2 separate regions of the Homo sapiens genome follow, and region 2 is linked to region 1. Evidence: fine-mapped expression QTL. Tissue or cell type: whole blood. Region 1 holds a variant in brackets; the other region holds the start of a gene. All regions are shown on one strand. Distances are between the middles of the regions.

Evidence for each region. PIP is the estimated chance that this variant, and not a neighbour inherited with it, causes the effect. A credible set is the group of variants that fine-mapping cannot tell apart.
Region 2: ARLN starts here. The variant in region 1 is the best candidate, but not a certain one, in a credible set for the expression of ARLN in whole blood (INTERVAL, PIP 0.72).

The regions. Positions count from the first base shown.
Region 1 is chr4:119,244,225-119,249,492 of GRCh38, forward strand. USP53 (ubiquitin specific peptidase 53) reads left to right here. Exons shown (of 19, transcript NM_001371395.1): 6 at 1,113-1,205; 7 at 4,524-4,658. Among named protein-coding and RNA genes, the nearest start is that of USP53, 34 kb to the left of the region's middle. The variant C/A (reference allele first, on the strand shown) is at 2,854.
Region 2 is chr4:119,298,190-119,303,189 of GRCh38, forward strand. ARLN (allregulin) reads right to left here and starts at 2,456. Exons shown (of 2, transcript NM_001001701.4): 1 at 2,147-2,456; 2 at 1-590. The coding sequence starts at 2,346. The coding sequence ends at 590. RefSeq lists enhancers at 2,050-2,099, 2,200-2,429.

The sequences.
Region 1 (5,268 bases):
GCTTTGCAAAAACACTGAGTTATCTGTGACAGAAAAATGGATCCTATTCATTATGCTTTAATAAAAGGCAACGTTTAAAGAGAAATTTTGAAATGACCTTTAGTTGTGGAGTAGTTGAAAATATAGGAAATATTAAAGCCAGTTTGTTTTTATTAACTTTTTGTTTTTATTTGGGAGAAAGGAGAGATCATGAATAGATTTTCTTAGTTACGTTATCTGAGGACACGACTAAAAGAGAAATTTGAAGATCTTATTTGTTTGTTGTAATAGTAGTAACAGCCACAAATAGCAGCTGGTACTCATTGCATGCCAGTTGAGTACCATACCCTGCTCTAGAAACATTACATATTATTTAATCCTTACAAGAACTCTATGAGACACAAGTACTATTCTTATCCTCATTGTCTAGAATTCAGGTTTTTCAGAATGATTTTAAGTATTGGACTGATTTGTTTTGACAGTTGCCGTCTTTGGGTTTGGTTTGTCTTTGTCTTTGCTTTGTCTTTGTCTTTTAGTAGCAGAAGATAAGTGGATAATTGCATCAAGTATATACTTAGGTAATTTATTAATGGCTGCTGCTTACTATGCTGTACCCCCATTACCACACAGGCCCCCTTTCTTGTTCCATGTACAGTGACCACATACACCTCTGCTCACCCCTTTTTCTTGCCATAATGTGCAGACCCCAATTTAGTACACTCTGGCTTTAAAGTCTAATTATATTTCCTTTCAAAATTTCAGTTTGTTCCAAGTATTATAATCACTTCCTCTTTCATGTCTCTGCCAACTTCTCTATTTAGTATTCCTTGTTTCCTGTTCAGACCAAATCCTTAATGAGGAGTTGGTTTTTCCCTGCTCCATGCTTGTCATAGTTTTTCATGTGCACCATTAAGAGTATCTTCTGAATCCAACTTTTATATATGCACAACATGCATGTAGCAATTTTATACTTGCTGTTATTTCCAGTGGTTATGTGTGTCTGATTATGTACAGGCAATTAAAAGAAGTTACTTGTTCGCCTTTTGCAATTTGTAAAATATCTAAATCTGTCTTTTGTTACAGTAAGAAAAATTTGTTTATTTCTTTTTCCTTAACATCTCCCTGTTTTTTAGGTTTTATGGCAATTGGATATATTCCGACGAAGCTTGCGGGTTTTGACTGGACATGTTTGTCAGGGAGATGCCTGTATATTTTGTGCATTGAAGGTAACCTTTTAATAGCTCTGAAAAACTACTATCAATTGTTCCTTCAAAAATTTAAGTTTGATATATTGGGTCAGTTTGTTGTAACTAAAGTTCACTGTCAGGTGATTAACAGTTTTGAAGATGAATTCTTAACAGTATGACTTATTCAGGTTTGTGTTTTCATTTTCCTCTTTTATATAAGGACAGTTAAAAATTAATATTCTAAGTAGTATAAAATTGTTAGGAACATTATCTTTTTCATTATTTTGCAATTATTCTTATTCATTTTAACAAATGTTTTTGGAGCTACTACTGAGTTCTGGGTACCAGTGTAGTTACTGAGGATACAGCAGTGAACAAAACTGATAAAAATCCCTCTTCTCATAGAGCTTGTATTCTTATAGAGGAGGAGACAATAATAAGAAAGCAAAATATTATAGAGTATGTTAGATGGTAATAGTTGTAACATTGGAAAAATACATCAGGGAAAGAAAATAGGGAGTGTTGTATAGGCAGGAAAGCCTCACTGAGAAACTGATATTTGAAATGACACCTTGAAGAGCCTTCCAGGTAGACAAAGAAACAGCAACTGCAAAGGCCTTGAGGTATGAGTATACCTGATATATTTAAGGAACACCAAGGAAATATGGGTGGCGATGGCAGGAGCTTTATGAGCAAGGAAGAGAGTGGTAGAAGGTGAGCTCTGAGGTGAGGGTAGCCGAGGTGGCTTTAAAACATGTCTGTGGATGCTTTTGCATGCTTCCTTATCCAAAATCTAATTCCTTGAATATAGGCTGGCCTTAATGACTGATTTCTGTCAAATAGACTATGGCAGAACTGAGGCTGCAAGCAAGATATCTGAGGTTAGGTTAGTTTAGAAAAGGTGATATAACTCTCACCCACCTCTGTCTCTTGAGTTGCTCATTCTTGGAAGTGAGCCACCATGATGAGGAAGCCAGGTGGCCATGCGGCAAGACCACGTGGAGACATTCTGGACACAGCTAGAGCTGAGTTCCCAGCCCACAGCCAGCATCAACTGCCAGACATGAAAGAGCGACCCTCAGATATTCCAGGTCCCAGCATTCAAACTGTCCAAAATGACTTCGAGTGGAGCAGAGACATGCTGTCCCCACCCAAATTGCAGATTTATGTAACTAAATTTTGGGGGTGGTTTATTTACAGAGCAATAAATAACTATAACAGGGGTTTAGATTGTGTAGGGCCTTATAGGCCTCTGTAAGGATCGTGGCTTTTTCTCTGAGTGATTTAGGGAGATGGGGCATTGTTTTGAGTGGAAGAGTGATACAGTCTGTTTTAACCAGATATAATATTTGAACTAGATCCCTGTGGCTGCTCTGCTGAGGAAAATAGAAGGAAGACAAAGAAACAGAGCATCCAGTATATATTAGCAACTCATTCGTGTCACTGAAATGTTTTGCCAGAGAACTTAAGATTTTGTTATACATTTTAGAGATAAATGTTTCATTTTTTTACATTCTTGAATATTCATAATGAACACATACACATAGACACACAGAATTTTTTTTTTTTAATGTATGTGCCTTAATTTCATTATGTTCCTGAAAAGGCTGTTTGAGTAAATCACCAAAGGAAGAAATTTTATATTCTCTTTTTTTAAGAACATGGCCAAATAGGGTTATTGTTAGGA[C/A]ATGAAGAATGAACCTAGATCACATTACAGTATCACATTTTATTTATTCCACAGTAAATTTTGAATGTTTTGTCTAATTGTAAAACCTAGGATTATTAATTTCCTAGACCAACTCTCTTGTAGCCCTGCACAGTCACCTGCCTCTTTCCTGTGCTTGCCTTCCTCTCCTCCCCTGTCAAAAACACACATAAACACATTGCATTTTAGCCAAACTGGGCTCTATTTCTCAGAGCTGATCCCCACCTCAAAGTCTTCTCATTGTTATTCCTTTTGTCTGGAATGCTTTTCTTCCAGATGTCCTCATGGCTAACACCCTTATTTCCTTTATGCCTCTCCTCAAATGTTACTTTTCCATTAGTGAGGCCTTCCCCGACTACCCTAGGTAAAAGGTAAGCTGCTTCCATCTGTAATATCCCTGGCATTCCTATCCCCGTTACACTGCTTTATTTTTCTCTCTTGTATCTATTTTTCTCTACTGTACTTATCACATTCTGATGTTATATAATTACTTCTTTGCCTTCTCATTACTATAACTAGAATATAGGCTCCATGTGGGCAGGGTTGTCATCCATTTTTCTAGGGTAGAACAATGCCTAACATATACGAGGGAGGCAAAAAATATATGTTGAATCAATGAGTGACAGTCTCGCATAGGATTAAAAATCTTAAACATTACCTGGAAGTTAATTGCCTAAATAAGAGATAAAATCTGAAAGTTATTTTTCATCTTTTACTATTCATAATTTTAGCTACTATAATGGCTAAAATAATTATAGTTCTGGGTATCTAATATCAGATGACATCTGTTTTTTTATTTCTTATTTTATTTATAAATTGTATTTTTTTGCTGTAGTGAAACAGATTTGTGAAATGTTTTCTTTGTATGTTGATCTTAAAAAAATATTTTTTTTTTGAGATGACATGACCCTTTGAGCTAACATGGGACTGAATGTGACCAATACTACTTTGGTGGGCTGTCATTGAAAACTTTTCTTTCTTCCATGTAAGATGATTGTCATAAAATTGGAATTTATTAAAATGTTTTTTCTTGCTTAAGTTTAATAAGGAAAATTGAAAATCATATTAACAACTATAATCTCATATTTCCAGTTTCTTAGGTTTAGATTAGAAACTGAATGATGTTTCCAGTTTCTTAATTTAGATTAGAAATACAGGTTGGGTATCTCTTGTCTGAAATGCTCAGGACCAGCAGTGTCCTCTGAGGGTGGGACCTGGGAACCCTATATGTTTAATTCTTGTGTCTGCTAACATTTGATTTAGAGGCTGGTGCAAACATTTCTACACTTGATGATACAAATAATTAATTTTTGTATGAAATTTTAGAGCAAAAGACTTCTGTATTATTTTCCGAAATACAGGTTGGGTATCTCTTGTCTGAAATGCTCAGGACCAGCAGTGTCCTCTGAGGGTGGGACCTGGGAACCCTACATGTTTAATTCTTGTGTCTGCTAACATTTGATTTAGAGGCTGGTGCAAACATTTCTACACTTGATGATACAAATAATTAATTTTTGTATGAAATTTTAGAGCAAAAGACTTCTGTATTATTTTCCAAGTATAGTGTTTTGAGTTTCTCTGTGTTGTAATGAAATTACTGAAATGTCGTTAAAGCTGGCATTAAACTTACTGATTTTCTTGTCGATTCCCAGACGATATTTGCACAGTTCCAACACAGTCGAGAAAAAGCACTTCCCTCAGATAACATAAGGCATGCTCTTGCAGAAAGTTTCAAAGATGAGCAGCGATTTCAACTTGGCCTTATGGATGATGCTGCGGAGTGCTTTGTAAGTGTTTCTGATATTCCTTAAGAAGTCAGGATAGTAGTTTTCATTCCTTAGATGGTACAAGTGTTGAGACAAATGAAACAAAAATTTAGAACAATAGAAAAATGTCAAAACTGTCCAGTAGATCCATATCTTACCCATCCTTCAAGCCTCAACTTCAATCCATCTGTGTTTTGTGTTGTACTTTTGGTTTTGATTATTTTTGTTGCTCTAATTTTTACTCTTAGGCTACTAAAATGTTTTAAAACTTAGTTGGAGCAATAAGCTTTGCTGAATATAAATGATATCACTTAAATCAGTGTTCTGCCACTATAGGGACCACATATGCAGCACATTCCCAGCAGTAATAGTTATCATTGCATGCAATGATTCTCACTGGGAGAGAAGGGGATTTTGGTGGGATTTTGGTGGGTAACAGGGGCAACAGCCTGTTACACACATTCCAGGTTGAAAATCACTGAGGTTGATGTTCTCAGGCTCTGTGTTACCACCATATTAGTAAGTAGAGCATTCCTTTGATCAGGTACATACTTTATACATGTAAAATAGGTATGTTAATTATTAAATGTCTCATTAATATTGATGTCACCTATAATTAAGTTGTAACCAT
Region 2 (5,000 bases), 54 kb after region 1:
TTTGATATTACCTGCTTTTTCTAAGACTGTATCAACCTGTCGCCCACCCATAACCTATCTTTTCATAACAGAGTCCAACTAAACCTAAAAATTAAAACTGGAACCTAGCAGCTTCTACGCAATCTAAGAATACTTTGTTCCCTCTCTCAAAATCTTTCCCTGCTTTTGAATAATTGACTTTTGAATTCATAAAAACCTTCCCTTATTAATCATCCTATTACTTGCATCATAGTAAACCCTGATCAACTCTTAAAACATTAAAAGACATTACTATATTTCTTAATGAATACACAAGACCTTTAAGTACAAATGCTTTTATATTCAGCCCCTGTAAAGCCATCAGATGTTTGAAAGTTTTTAAACACGAACCAAAGGGTTTAATTTTAAGAACTTAGCTAGGAATGGGTGAAATCCTACCCAATTAATAGAGTTCTGCAAATTAGTAACAAAGTGTAAAATGAAAGGAAGGGTCCCTTGGAGATGTGAAATTCTTCTATTGAGAGTCCTGTCTTCTTTATTCAAGAAGTTTGTAGCCATTTTCAGAATTCACTCAAGAACCAACTTCTTAATTTAGATATCAGCGAACAAGTCTGTAAAAAGCAAGTATTTGTCAGCAATATGTGCTTTATCTTCCCAGTTTTTAACACTTTATGCCTATTTACATATTGATAAAAAGAAAAGCCTAGAACATTTCTTGTAAGGCCTCTATTTTCTATCCAGAGCTGAAAGTTCAGGTCATAAAAACACACACACACACAAAACCCACTGTATTTGAGATTATCAGTCTCTACCAAAACAGGGAGGGAGAGTAAAACTCTCCCTTTACAAATGGCTTGACAGAGAATTTTATAGAAATCCCTATCCCTTTTGCCATCCTCCCATTAATCCCTCTCGCTCCCCTGCCACCCCTTTTTTTGAGACAGGGTTTGCTTTGTCTCCCAGACTGGAGTATAGTGGCACGTTCACAGCTCACTGAAGCCTCGACCTCCCCAGCTCAAGCAATCCTCCTATTTCAGCTTCCCAAGTAGCTGGGACTACAGGCGTGAGCCACTGTGCCTGGCCCTCTCTGTCTTCTCTAACTTACTACACCATCCAAGAAATGAGACAGTGAGGCTTAAGACACCCAAATCTTGGTGAAAATATAGGATGGGGGTTGGGGGTGTAGAAGAAGTGACTGCCTATCAAGAAGTGAGAATTTCAGAAGTAACTCATAGGCATGGTGACTAAGGAGTTAACAGTGAGTGAACAATCAACTCCAAAGTCCAGGAGAGCTGTCTAGATGGGCTACACTGCTCTTCTCCCATAGGAGCCCTGTTTCATCTCACTGCTTCTCCTTAGCTTGTCTCTTAACACCATCTCCATTTGGTGTCTGCTTCCTCCTGCCCTATTCTCTTAAGTTCCCTTCCTTTACCCTCTGCCAGAATTGTCTTTTCAGAGCGAGTGGCGATGAAAATGGAGAGCATGGGTTTTACAAGTAAACTCTACAGAATTTTGTAACTTGGTGTTTTAGGATATGTGGATGTGTGTAAGAAAAGGGCAAAGTGTCTCAGGTTTCTGGGAGGTAACGGTGGATAAAGTTGGCGTTTACTGAAATGGTAACGCTGCAAGGCAAGTAAATTTGGGTAAGAAGCTGTTAAGAGTTCAGTTTTGGACATGTTTAGTTTGAGACAGCTGCGTGGTCTGCTCATGGTTAAACAGCTGTATAGTAAAAATAGCTTTCGTTGAGCACTTACTACTGCCAGGCAACATGCAAATCACTACGATCTCAATCTTCACTACACCCCTATGACCTGGGTTACTAATGGTCCCAAATGGCAGATGAAAAAATAAAGCTCCAAAAGGCGAAATAACTTCTCCGGTCGCTTCATGGTGCTGCAGGAACTCAAGCCTAGCTGGTTTCATTCCAAATCATGAGAAAATATGACGCCAAGTTTTCTCCACACTTCTTTGGAGACTCCCACGGACGTGCTAAAGAAGGACATTTTACTCCTAGTCCTTCTCCCCCACCCACCCGACTGCGCCACTCACCAGCTGTGTGATCTTGGACATATATAAACTCTCTGGAATTCAGTCCCCTCCCCGCCCAAAAGCGAGCAAATGATCTCTAAGCTCCTTACCACCCCAATTTTGCATTCGAGATACTCACCATGGCAAAAAATACACAAAGAGAAACACCACCACATCGAAAAGGATGAAAAGCCAGAGGTCCAACCAGTAGGAGTGTTTGGGAAGCCCATTTGCCCCAGACTGAGGCCTCACATCGAAGTTCTGCCTCCCTCCCTCGCTAAAGCCTCGCCGCTCCCGGAGACCATCTCGACCATCAACACCCGGTGCGTCCACCTCCATCTCGCTCCTGCAGCTTCGTAACAACCCTAGAAACCGAAAATGCTTAAGTTCCCGGACTTTGGTGTTCGCCGCACCGGAAACTGAGCGGAGTCCGGCCGCCTGCGCAGTGCGCCGCGCCCCGGGTTCCGGAATGCACTCTGAACCTACTCTTCCCAGCGCGCAGGCGCCTGGCTCGGCTTTCCGCTGCCTCCGTGACCGCTGGCATGAAGCGCGGCCTCCGCCTTGACACTAAGTCAATGGGCCCGCCTACTTCTGCCTCGCGGCGTCCCAGGCAGATAGCTGGTTATTCAGGTTTCGTTGGAAGAAATACGTTCTCGTCCCCCTGAAAGGCCCAGTCCAGTCAGGTGATGGACTCCTCCCTGAAACTGCACGAGGTCACCTCTCCTATCCCCGTATTCCGTTTGGATCCTTATGCCAACGTGTTAGGAAGGCCCCCTCTGGTGGGTTTTGTACTGTCTCTAGCATTTGACACTTAATATTTAAACACCACCAATGAGGTGGACGTCCTACTCACGGGACTGAGTTTCCAAACGGGCCAGAGAGCAGCACGTGAGCATTTTGCAGGTACTTCAAGGGAGTGGGTTTAAGAATAACCTGGCCGCGCCCCCCTGTAATCCCAGCACTTTGAGAGGCCGAGGCGGGCGGATCACCTGAGGTAAGGAGTTCGAGACCAGCCTGGCCAACATGCTGAAATCCCGTCTCTACTAAAAAAAAAAAAAAAAAAAAAAAAATCCAAAAATTAGCCGGGCGTGGTGGCAGGCGCCTGTAATCCCAGTTACTCGGGAGGCTGAGGCAGGAGAATCGCTTGAACCCGGGAGGCGGAGGTTGCAGTGAGCTGAGATCGTGCCACTATTGCACTCCAGCCTGGGCAACAGAGCGAGACTCCATCTGGGGGGAAATGGGGGTGGGAAGAATAACCCAAAGGTTATTTGACTTTGAGTGTGAGCCTCAGCAAGAACAGAATGCTAGCAGGAAGAAAATGACCTATACTGCCTGGATTTTACCTCGTGGGTCCAATTTCAAATATTCTCTTTCTTGTCACATTATGATTCCTGAATTGTTCAGAAAATAACGGGCACCCAGACATATAAGTGGTTCTCTTGGTGCATAGTAAATGGAGATAAGACTGTAGTTGTGTTTTTACAAAGTCATTAAATCGTCGTAAAACCTCTTTGAAGGGGCAGTACTCCATCTTATAGAATTAGGAAATGAGACACAAAAGGAGTGAATTGTCTAAGGTTACTAAAAAAATTATAAAGCCTAAAATTAACTCCAAATCCAGCACTCTTAAAGCTGTTCCATAGCTTCCTAACCTTGCTCCAATTTGCCTCCAAATCAATTGCCAGGTTTTAGAGACAAAGATAGTATACGACCTTTCAAGAAAAATGCTTTGTAGATTCTGGGATGAGAGGGCCATTACCTGAGAATTAATTAGATTGTGTGCTGTAATACAGATTGTCTGATGGTAGTAGACAAAAAGACCCTGGGCTTAAGTGGCATTGAATCTTTACAAAAATTAGGAAAGGCAAATAAACAATTGCCTCTACCAGAGATGGAAGCATTCTTCTCGCTGACAAGGTAGGATCAATTACTCCTAGTTATTGAAGTAGGATTGATAAAAAATTATTGAGATTATTAGTGTTGAAGAAGCATGACATAAACTGAACAGGTCTTGAAATGGTTTTAAACTTGTCTTTGGCCCAGAGTCACATGCTCATCATGAGGGGATGTTGACAGTATGATCTGTTCTAGAGTCAGGAACGTCTGCCAGACTTGGAAGAGCAACTAGTGCAAATAAGGAGGGGTTATTTAAACTAAATTCAGTTGAAAGATTCTATTTCCGACTTTACCCTTGTAAAAGTCCCACTGATTGTTGATTATTCCACATTACAGAAATGAGTTTAGAGTGTGTTATGGCTGATTTTGAACTACTGGCCTCAAGTGATCCTTCTGCCTCGACTTCCCAAAGTACTGGGATTACAGGCATGAGCCACCTTGCTCAGTTGGCATTTGCCATTATCAAAGCAATTTAAATTTTAAAAAGTACTGTACTGAAATCCAGGTTCACTGTCAGTCATGCAATACCTCGGCACTTGTCCAACCACCTTGAACTTTCTACTTCACATGTTCAACTGAAAAATATGCACCAGGGACTACAGATTGAATCATTGCACTGCAACCATGATCCAACACTTCCATAATTCTGTCAGCACAATTAATCTGATTGAGCTGGGGTGGAGAAGGTGGTGTATGAAAATGCTATAACCATCAGGCCAAAGACAGCTAAGTGTTTTTAAGAAGACGTTACAGATCTTCTGAACTTCAAGTGCAATAAGTTTTCAGGAGGGAGATGATGATGAATTTTGCTTTAACCTAAGGGATAATGCAAATTTTTCGTATGCAGCTCTCAAGCCAGTATATCCATGTGATAAAGCATCCTCATGATCATCCTAGGAATTAAATTAATTTTATAGAATAACCTCTCCAACAGTGGAGAATTTGGTTACTGTAATTTTCATCTGGAAATATATGTGTTTATCTTAAATTATTCTTTCTCATCTTAACTTTGTCTTTTCCTCCTTTTCAAGTTGAGTACCTGTCCTAGCAACAACCCTGTTGATTGGTACCACAGGTTATTTCTCCATCTTCTGGGT